4 separate regions of the Homo sapiens genome follow, and all the other regions are linked to region 2. The links come from fine-mapping of genetic effects on gene expression. A gene starts in region 2. Each other region holds a variant in brackets. All regions are shown on one strand. Distances are between the middles of the regions. Region 1 holds the start of MLPH (melanophilin). Region 2 holds the start of COL6A3 (collagen type VI alpha 3 chain). Region 3 has its middle 21 kb from the start of COL6A3. Region 4 has its middle 27 kb from the start of COL6A3.

Evidence for each region. PIP is the estimated chance that this variant, and not a neighbour inherited with it, causes the effect.
Region 1: its variant is fine-mapped to the expression of COL6A3 in whole blood (TOPMed, PIP above 0.99).
Region 3: its variant is fine-mapped to the expression of COL6A3 in T cells (TOPMed, PIP 0.96).
Region 4: its variant is fine-mapped to the expression of COL6A3 in whole blood (TOPMed, PIP above 0.99).

Annotation. Positions count from the first base shown.
Region 1 is chr2:237,485,172-237,487,854 of GRCh38, forward strand. MLPH (melanophilin) reads left to right here and starts at 2,080. Exons shown (of 16, transcript NM_024101.7): 1 at 2,080-2,266. It overlaps LOC105373957 (a long non-coding RNA gene), which reads right to left and starts at 1,977. Exons shown (of 2, transcript XR_001739962.2): 1 at 1,640-1,977; 2 at 529-1,550. RefSeq lists an enhancer at 947-1,915. The variant C/T (reference allele first, on the strand shown) is at 1,388.
Region 2 is chr2:237,412,739-237,415,421 of GRCh38, forward strand. COL6A3 (collagen type VI alpha 3 chain) reads right to left here and starts at 1,426. Exons shown (of 44, transcript NM_004369.4): 1 at 1,215-1,426.
Region 3 is chr2:237,433,897-237,436,579 of GRCh38, forward strand. No RefSeq gene overlaps it. Among named protein-coding and RNA genes, the nearest start is that of COL6A3, 21 kb to the left of the region's middle. The variant CAGGAGATAATAAACG/C (reference allele first, on the strand shown) is at 1,341.
Region 4 is chr2:237,439,698-237,442,380 of GRCh38, forward strand. No RefSeq gene overlaps it. Among named protein-coding and RNA genes, the nearest start is that of COL6A3, 27 kb to the left of the region's middle. The variant G/T (reference allele first, on the strand shown) is at 1,600.

The DNA of each region.
Region 1 (2,683 bases), 72 kb after region 2:
GTACAATGATATTCATGTGTCATCCTATGTATGATAGGTGTCAATAAGAATTATCTAGGATGATATTTATGGCAGAATCATTTAAATAGCAAAAAATCAAAAATTAACTGTCCATCAATAGAAGACTGGTAAGTAATTATGGTAACTCACACATTGGATACTCTGCAACCAAAAAAGGATGAAGTAGATCAACAGGAATAGTAATTAATATTTACCAAGCACTCACCACATGGTGTCTCACCCAAGCTGCAGGGATATTGATTCACAACACCCTTATGTGTAACTCCCATTACTATTCTCATCATGGAGAAGAGAGAAAAAAGTCAGTAGAAGATTCAGTAACAGGTCCAAGATGACACAGCTTGTGGGCCACACTCCTAGTTGGAATTCCGACTCTTGCAGTTGGTTTGAGCCCACATGCTTAACCTCACACACACACACACCATTCAGAAAGAATATAGAAGACACCATTAATAATGATTGCTTTCTGGTCATGGAGGTTAGTAATGGAATAAGAGAGAATTTGGCTTTTCATTTTATACTCCTTATATTCTTTACTATATACCTTATATATCAGCGTGTGTCAGTTGTATATTTTTTAAAACCACTACTTCAAATAAATAAGCACTAAAGTATTAAAAACATTTTTAAAAACTTCTGCCCTTAAGGAACTTAAGTCCCTACATCAACTCTTAAGGGATTTATTAATCTTAACAAGTAACAGTAAAGTATATGGCAAGGAGGTAAGGAAATGAAAAACATAAGCACCAGATCATATGGGATGTGGAAATACTGGCTTCAGTGTAAGCTTCACTCTATTCCAGGGTTCACACTCAACAATTGATGGTGTTTGGTAAGAGCACCTGTCTCAAAGCAGCCCAGGGGCCTGAAATACCCTGATTCACCTACAGTGTTCCCCTGGGCTCAGCAGGCAACAACATTCTTTTTTGTTCTTTTGCAGCCTTTTGAAAGCTGTTTACAAATAATCTAATGTGATATCACAACAATCCTATAAGGTTTTGATTCCTCTTCTGTTAAATGGAGATACTAGTATCTATTCATTCACCTAATGGCTTTATTCCTATCATTTTGCAGATAGGAAAACTGAATTGCAAAAGCGGTTCCTGGAGAACAGAATGTGAGTTTTTAAGTGACAAGGGAGAGGGAGGGGGAGGGAGAGAAAATTCTGAAGCGCCCAGTCTTGGAGGATGAGGGAGGAGGGCAATTCCCTAATGTCCATTGGAATTCGGAAGGACAGGCAGGCCGGGCGGACTGGAGACGGCGGCTCGCCTTGGGACCCTCTGAGCTTGCGGGCCCCGCTGAGCACCCAAAGGCCGGCCCTAGAGTCCAGGAGAAGAGCGCAGCGGCGCGGAGCTCCCAGGCGTTC[C/T]CCGCAGCGCGTCCTCGGTCCTGGAACCACCGCGCCGCGCGTCCTGGCTTCCACATCTGCCCCATTTGCCCGCGGATCTTGACTTTTTCTTGGCGGGCAAGGCCTCGGTCTCCTCCCCGCAGCAGGGCTGCCCGCGGCTGCGGGACCCTCCTGGTCCTGATGCCTGGCAGAATCGAAGGGGTGAGGGTACGCTCTCTGCAGCAGAAAGCCCTGGGCTTAAAGTCCTATTTATTATTTGGCGTTGCCACTTACTGGTCGGTGGCTTTGGTAGGGCGCGTTTCTGAGCCTCAGTTTCCCCATTTGTAAAGCCGAAGTACATAGCGCTTTCCCTGCAGAGTTAGAAATTTCGACGATGTGCCGCGCGCTCTAGAGCGCGCTCAGCAAGCGGGTCCCACCGTGCCCAAGGCAGGACCGCGGCGCGATGTCACCTATGCAAAGTCGCCGCAACTCACGGGAATCGCAGCTGTGTGCTCAACTTTCCCCTCCCCGCCGCCGTCTTTCTCCCCAAACTGGCTTGGGGGTCGAGTATCCGGGGCTCTCCCCCGCACTGGCGCTTCCCGCGCGGGCGCCCCAGGTGTCCGTTCCGTTCCGCCCTCTGCCTGGCAGGGCATCCAGAGGTGTCCGCGCTCCCGGAGCTGGGCGGAGCGGGGCGCAGCCCACGTGGTTCGGGCGGGAGGCGCCGGGACGTGGCCAGTTGCCCGCCTGCCCCGGAGAGCCAGGCGCTAACCAGCCGCTCTGCGCCCCGCGCCCTGCTTGCCCCCATTATCCAGCCTTGCCCCGGCGCCCTGACCTGACGCCCTGGCCTGACGCCCTGCTTCGTCGCCTCCTTTCTCTCCCAGGTGCTGGACCAGGGACTGAGCGTCCCCCGGAGAGGGTCCGGTGAGTGCACTGAGAAGAGGGAACAGCGGGGCCAGGGTGGCGCCCAGGACTCGGGGCTTAGGCTTTGGGGGGTGCGCGGTGTCGCGTGCAGACCCACTGGTGTGAAAACGCCCCCAGCCGCCAGCCTCCCGGCCTCGGTCCAGGCTGGTGAGGACAGCGCGTTCCCAGCCACCCAGCCTTAGTCCCCCAGGCTTCACCTGGATTCTTTGAGCAGACTGCTCTGGGTGCAGGCACGGGTGGGAGTGGGATGGCGGGGGATCCCCATTTTGGGCAAAACGGTTGGTTTTAATCAGAAGCTCCATTGCCTCCATTGCGAGTCTGCCATGCAGACTGGGCCAAGGCTGCTGATGCCAAGTAGGCTGGCCCCAGGGGAAAGGTTTCCTCCCAGCCCAGGAGCTGGTCTTGGGGTGAGGAAGA
Region 2 (2,683 bases):
TCCCAGGTTGAGCATCCACCATCCCCGTGAGCTCTGAGCACCCTGCAGCTCTAGCACCCTGTGGTCCTCGCCGGGGTGAGCTGTATGTGGGGAGAGAAGCCAGTCAGCCGGGGCCACAGCCCTGCCTCCCCATCCAGCACAGCAGACTCCCCTGTGCTCAGAGGGGTTTGCTCCTGGGGTCTGCACCGGCCTCGAAACTGGCTCCTGGGGCTTCCTGTGGAAGCAGATTTTTCTTTAACCACTCCCTAGTCCCTCCCAGTGACCCCACCCATACTTCAATACCCGTTCATTATCCAACATAGTAGGCCCCTTGAAACAGGTTCCCCAAACAGGCTGGCCACTGTCAGCGAACGTGTCCATCCTCAGCAAGAGAGGGCCCGAGCCCCACCCTGCATCCTCCGGGCCAGAGAACAGCCCTCGGGGCCTCCCAGCTCGGCACTGGCCTCACCTCTGTGCAGCATGGGCTGGCCCTGCAGCCCCAGGGGCCCTGCCTTAGACACTCAGCATGCTGCCCAAATGCCCAATTCCTTCTTCTCCTCTGACCCCTGCAACTCCTTTAAGCAACCCCAAGGGACAAAGTCTCCAATAGAGACTTCAGGTTCCTGGAAAGACGAAAGCTTGACGGCAATGACTGAGCGACCCTTTACTTGGCCCTGATCCTGAGCACCAGAGTTACTCCAATCTTGTGAAAGCAGCAAATGTGCTCCACCAGGACCTTCCCATGGGCGGCCCTGGGCAGAAAACCCATGCAGGTTGTTGCACCCTGACCTAGTGTCACCACCCAGAGAGCTCAGAGAACATCTCCCAGCGGAGCCGCCCGGCAGGGAGCTATGCTAGTCCTCAGCAAAGACGCTTCTGCAAACAAAGCGGATCCCGAATGGGTTTTAGAAGGCGGCAGTAACTTAAATAAATCATGGGCCGAAACACACTGCCGCCCGGAATGCACAGGGCGCGTGTAGCAGCCACAGACACGCGGTGGAAAAGTGCTCACACTCTTAGGCAATCATGACCTTAACCAATTTAAGGAAATCCCATTGCCATAAAGTGAGAAAGAAAAATCAGCGGAATCTTCCAGAGACCTAAAACATGTACAGAAAACTGGCGATCAGCATGAACGTAAGAGCCACTAACGCTACCTAGAAAGGATCACTTCAGGTTAAGAGCATTTCCTTCTAGCCCCAAACCTGGAAAAACAGAAGAGAAATCACACTTACCCCTGAGCAAACCTGAAGGCGTGTGTCCCTGGGCTCCTCGATTCAATTAGGTTTGAATAGGATGCATACTTTTCCCACTCACTGCGTCTCTTTTTCTTTTTGCAGCCTTTCTCCACCAAAAAAGTGGAGACTCAGAGCTGCGGAGGAAAACTCTTGCAGTCCTTGCAGGAGGCTGGAGCCCAGGAGAACTGAACGGCCTTTGGTGGAAGACTGAGCTCCAAACTGGACTGGGGCCAGGGATACCAGTCAGGGCTTCCTCCAGCTCCTCCTCCTCCTCCTCCTCCCTCCCGGACCCCTCCTCTCCCCCTCCTCACTGCAGAACTGACCCAAAACTGTAAATGAAACCAGACTCCTCCACTCTGTTTCTTCTGGCCCCCGCTCAGGCTGATGTCACCCTCTGAATTCTGTCTTCACCCTACAAGCGTTTAGCTGGACTCCTGCAAGCCCCAACTCTTAAAAAAAAAAATTGACCACTCCTACTCGTCACCTTTTGGGCTGGGCCCTTGGCGTCAAAAAGAATAAATTTTGGAATTTCTTCGTGGGTATCCATGGTTTTCCTGCAATGTTTTCCAACACCATCTGAAAGGAAAACAGGAAATGCAGTCCCCCGCTTACCCTCACCACACCCTCCCATTTCTTCTTGAAGTTTCTGAATTGAGACTTCTACTAATAACTTCCCCCTTCAAATAGAAAAACCAGCAATTAAAATCGCCTTGGTTTTCTGTTAACCAAAGCTCTGTTCACCGGCAAAAAAAAGGAGGCTACATTTCTCTTAATTTCTATATCTAATGATTCTGATTGTGGCGCTTATAGGCCCATTCTAGGCACAGACGGGGTAATAAAAATGGTTATCTTGCCAAAGCTTCGGGAAAATACTTGAGTAAGAACTTCTGTTTCTAGAAAGCTTTGCACATTTCAAAACACTTCAATATACATTCTCTCCTTTATCACAAACATCAACACCCTAAGCCCTTTTAAATAGAAAGATGTCTTCTTTTATTAGGTGAAATTGTGGTCCCATTTTACAGATGAAAGAAACAGGCTGGGCACGGTGGCTTATGCCTGTAATCTCAGCACTTCGGGAGGCTAAGGCAGGCAGATCACAAGGTCAGGAGTTGGAGACCAGCCTGGCCAACATGGTGAAACCCCTACTAAATCTCTACTAAAAATATAAAAATTAGCCAGGCATGGTGGCAGGCGCTTGTAGTCCCAGCTATTTGGGAGGCTGAGGCAGGACAATTGCTTGAACCCAGGAGGCAGAGGTTGCAGTGAGCCGAGATGGCGCCACTGCACTCTAGCCTGGGCAACAGAGTGAGACTCCAAAAAAGAGAAAAAGGAAAGAAAGAAAAGAAATGAAAAGAAAAGAAGAGAAGAGAAGAGAAGAGAAGAGAAGAGAAGAGAAAAAAGAAAAAAAGAAAAGAAAAGAAGAAAAGAAAAGAAGTTCCGAGAGAGTAAGTGACATCGTCATT
Region 3 (2,683 bases), 21 kb after region 2:
TGGCCACATCATTGGCTACTCCCCCTCCAGCCCCTAGGATTCATTGTCCACGGGAGAGCCCATCTCCCAGCTGCTGCAGGTGCTGCTAAGCGCTCGCACAGGTAGCCTTCCCTGGAGAATCATCCCTAAGCAACAGCGGCCCCTCCCCAGAGGTCCCAAGAACTATGTCTCCCTCCAGAGAAGGCCCAAAGCCAAAGACTGGCAAAGGGAAGGCTGCCAAGCACTACAGGGCAAATCTAATGAATGCCCCTGAGCAACATGAGAGCCGGCTCGGCTGCACTTCCCCTGCACACCCCTTGCCCCACTTCCTCCCCGACCTCTCCCGCTCCCCTCCCTCCTGTGCTAGCTTCTCCCACAGCATCCATATCCCTTGATCAGTCACTTGCACTGAGAATTTGTCTCAGGCACTGTTTCCACGGAGCCAGACCTAAGACAGGTGTAAGCCAGAGGGTCTGGATCAAATCCCAGGTGTGATAAGTCACCGGGGGCCAAGTACTCAACCTCACCAGATCTCACTGTCTTTCTCTGTAAAATAAGGATAATAGTCACACTTGCACATAAGGGTGCAGTGCAGAGTGCATGCGTGCATAACACTTAAAGTAATTGGAACACACCTGGCCCATCAAAAGCACCTGGAGGAGACATCAGTTCTTACCACTGTAGCCAGAAGGTTGTCTCTCTGAGCTACAAATAAGACACTGGACACCCATTTAGTCAACCTTCTACAGACGATCACAGCCCAACCCAATCAAGCACCTACGTTTCACATTAGGCATGTCCATTTCAGGGTGTCTTATCCAGCGGCTGAGTTTGAAGGATCATTTTCAGGGTGAAAATTGGAAGAACTGATGAAGCTCACAAAAGCAAATAAATAAGCACGGCTTTTGCAGGATGCTTCCAGCAGAGCAGTGCTGGCAAGCCTGGCTGCCTGTCAGAGCCACTGGGGGGCTTATTAAAACTGCTAGCTCCCCTCCACCACCATCCCCCACCCCTTCCCTAGCTCCGCCCCTGAAGGTCTAATTCAGTCTAGTCAGCTGGAGTCATAAAAGCCTTCCTGGAGAAGAAGACACCTAATCTGGGTCTGGAAGGATGTGTGGGAGTTGTTCAAATGGAGCAGCCGTGCGGGGGCAGGACATCCCAGCACAGGGGACTGTGAGAGCCACGACGTGGGCCCTGGAACCCTGTGGTAGATGCAGAGAACCACAAACATTTCCGTACGGCTAGAAAGCGAGTGGGGGTGGCAGGAAGTGGTGGGAGGGGCTCACGATGCCAGTAATGACCATATTCAGGGGTGCTCCCGAGCCCTCCTTCCTTATGCCCCACGTGCTCCCACATCACCC[CAGGAGATAATAAACG/C]AAGGCGTGCACATGGGGGTCAGGCCCCTGGGAGTCAACAATGACTTCGGAGACCTCAGAGAGTCTGCAAGAAGCTTCCCTGGCTGCGTCCCTTGCCCCTTTAGGACCTGTAGGGGCCGTCTTTGCTGGGTGAGGTGCAGCTGAACTAAGGGTGAGCTGCTTTCCTCTGCCACCACAGGACTCAAATCCCATGGGGCCCCAGAGCAGGTGGACGGTGGTCCCCTGGCTTCTGCATGGCTGTGCCAGCCCACCCTTACAGGGACAGCATCACAGGCAGCAGAACTTCCAGCATTCTCAAAGGAGCTAGAAATTCCACCTTTTTTGTGAGATTTGAATTTTTACATGTTGGAGCAAATTTTTTCTCTGAAGCAAAACACATTTGCAGAGTCGTGACCTCTGCCAGGGAAGTGGGACAGAAGCTGGAGCCAGAAGACCTGAGGACAGGTCTCAATTCTGTCCCCTGGCTCACCAACAAGGGAGGGGTGGGCCACAGGGTCTTTCAGTGCCTTCCCAGCTGGACATTTCTGACCTCTCCTCTTCTCCTCTCCAAAATAAAAAAAAAAATCCTTAAATTTTCTAACCACCTCGGTGTAATTTTACTAGAGCATTAACTGAATTATAAATGTGTCTATTCAAACAAGGGCCTGGCCAGTGAAATTTTAACCAACTACCTGATTTCCAACTGTTTTCCATTGACCCATATATTAAAATAGTAGAAGGCCTTGGTCTCATGAGGCTTCTGGAGAAGCCTGCACGCAGCAGGAATGACACCCTGGTTGTGGAATTTCACTAGGCAACAGGCTCCAAACAGAAAATGTTAGCACTTTTGAGGACAAATAGTGTTTCTGGTACACTCTCTCCCCACCCCTTTCCTTTATCTAGTTTCTGCTCTTTCTTTGCTCTTTTATTTTTACTACTCCTTTTAAGAGTTCGTGTGTATTTTTACTAAACTTCAGTAGTACATATCCCCTCGCCAAAATGCTCCCTTCTCACTTTACACACTGCTGAAAATTATCATGCTGGCCCCTTCCTTGGAGTACAGTTCTGCCCTGTTGAAATGCTCACCCAGGAGGGGGCACCGAATTCCTGCTTTGTCACCAGGGACTGGGTGTTCAAAGAGTCGTTCATGGGGTGGGGCGTGTGGCCATGCCAGATAGCTGGTCAACCCCGGAGGAAGGCCAGCCCCAGGAGGGAGCAAGTGCAGTGTAGGGTCCAGCCAAGGGTTTATGAGCCTGAAGATTGGTTCAGGCAGCGGCGCCATCCTAAGGGAAAAACAGATACACCTCGAAGAGAAGCTGCTCCACCACTGCACCTGCTCTGTGCCACAT
Region 4 (2,683 bases), 27 kb after region 2:
TTGGACCACTGCACTCCAGCTTGGATGATAGAGCAAAAGCCTGTCTCAAACAAAAAAGAAAAAAGAAAAGAAAGAAAAAGAAAAGAAAATATAAGGAAAAAGAAAGGGCCTAAAACAACCAACCATTAACTCTTGCTATGCCTCTTGAATCCCATGTTATAATAGGACATGATGCCCTCATCTTCCCTCTGCCCCTCCTCAGCACCTTCCACCACCCCACTCTGTGGAATCATTGCTCTTATTTTATTATTTTTAAAAATTTGGGAATATTAACATTCAATGCTGTTTCCATATGGAGTAAATTATCCAAAAATTGAATCTGAAAGTTAAAAACCTATCACTGCTACACACAGATATCACACACACACAATGTAAATGTGTGTCACTGCACAGCTGAGTAGGGTGCTGGTGTTGCATTTCCTTCTCTGGAAGGCCAACAATGCAACTAAAAAGGAATTGTCTCTGGACATGAGTCCTTTTTGCACTCTGCTAATTGCCTTATATCTTTGCAAGACCCTCCAGGATCTCAATTGCTTTATCTCTTTTACTCTTTCCTCCTTTCCCAGAGACTTCCTCTCAGCCTTTCCCTCCAGCCTGTGCCCCACTGCCACCATCCTTGCAGAGAGTATGGTGCTCTTACAATCAAATGCACCAACTGCTAGAAGTCAGGTCTGGCTCTTTCTTGATTTAATTTCTTCTCTTTTGGGAGAATGTCCTCCATTCACCTCCCATGGAAAGATGCATGAGAGGTAAACTTGCTTAGTTAGTCCACGCGTGAAAAAATCTTTGTTATTCCCTCACACTTGAGCAATAGTTTAAGGATGTTGAATACTGAGTTTAAGGTGTCATAAACTAAAGTCCTTTTCCTTTAGAACTCGCTCCGTTGGCTTCTAGCATCCAGTGCTGCTGGTGAGGATTCTGAGAAGCCTAGTATTTAATTCTTCATGAGTGATCTTTGTCACACTCTCTTTCTGTCATTGAAAATGTCTTCCCCTCCATGCTGCCTGGTCTTGCTTGTTGTCTTTTTGAGGCATGGGAAGACAAATTTAAAACAAATTGAAAAACAAGGAAGTGCCAGATGGGAGATAGAAAACATCACCTATATTACTGGGGGAGGCCAAGTTGGAGGATGTGCCTCATGGTGAAAACCAAATGAGACAGCTTCAGAAACAGGACAGCTTCAGAAACAGGACAGCTCCAGAAACAAGACAGCTCCAGAAATGACACAACTCCAGAAATGAGACAGCTCCGGAAATGACACAACTCCAGAAATAAGACAGCTCCAGAAATTGCACAGCTCCAGAAATGTTATAGTTCTAGAAATAAGACAGATTCAGAAATCACACAGCTCCAGAACTGGGTTGACTCATCCACCCAGTTTCAGTGGCACTGGGGTCACAGCAGACCTCCTGACAGGGGGACAGAGTAGAAAATGCTCCTAGCAGGAGGCAGTTCCCTCTGAAGAGGAAGAAAGACAGAGCTGCCCCTGCCCAGTAACCTTCCAACGTTTACCCATCAGAAGGGTCACAGGGCCCTTCCTGGAGAGAGATCTGGGAGAGGAGCAGGGAAGTGTGAGTGCCACATCAGGGAGAGAGAAAG[G/T]CTGTCCCCACATTGTAGTCTCTGAAACTGCGGATAGTCAAACATCAGAGCTTTTGACTTGAGCCTTTGTGGCTTTTCTCCCATATTCTTTATTTCTTGGTCTTTTTGTACTATTTTCTGGGAGATTTCTCCTACTTCTCTTCCAACACTTGTACTGATATTTTTCCCACACTTTAATTTTGCTGCACCTTCTCATGGTGACCTATTCTCACAGCCCTCTATTCACGCTTCGTAAATTATCTTTTTACAAAATTCATCTAAGTTGCTCATTTAGATGGGGTTTAAGGGTTTGTTTGATTTCTTTTTTATTGTTGTTCTTGCTGGTTGTGTGTATGTGTGGGAGGAGGGAGGGGGAATTGGGTCATCTGCAAGGCAGACAAGAAGACAGAGTCAGAGAGAATGAGATGTGTTGGCAGAAAAGCCTGTGATGATTAAGATCAAAGGGAGAAGGAGGCTTTCCAGCCTGCCTCCAGATTCTGAGCTGAACCATCTGTAAACCAGGCTTCAGCTTTTTGTTTCTCCTCTGGCAGAGCCTATCAGACCCACCCACAGGGCTGTTGATGCTAGCTGGGGGAGGGCACTGGCCCATCGTGGCAGAGGACGTGGTCATCTGGGACCACTGCTTGTATAGCTCACTTATGTCCTCTGGTCCTGTTCAGGCTCCATGCCAGCTGTGCCATTTCCATGTGAAAATGGACTTCCCCAGGCACACCCAGCTATATGATGTGGTGGGTCTGACCACCAATCCTACACTCTTAAAATCCCCAAGGCTGAGCCTGATCCATCCTCCTCCCTTCCAGAGTATGGATTTGTGATTCACTGTCATGGTGGGTGGGGAGTAGAACTTCAGAGCACTCTACTTGGTCTTCCTCATCACAATTGTTCTTACTCCATACTCCAAGATTCAGCATGGGTGCTGAACCCACTGCCAAATATATTGACCCCAGTTACATATCTGGGAAGTGAATGCAGAATTAAATGCAATGCAGTAATAGCCAGCCATTTTCACTCTCCTCATGTGCACTGTTGCCTCTGTATGTTTCAAAAGATCGAATCATCACACTCGTCAGGGCTTTCCCTCTTG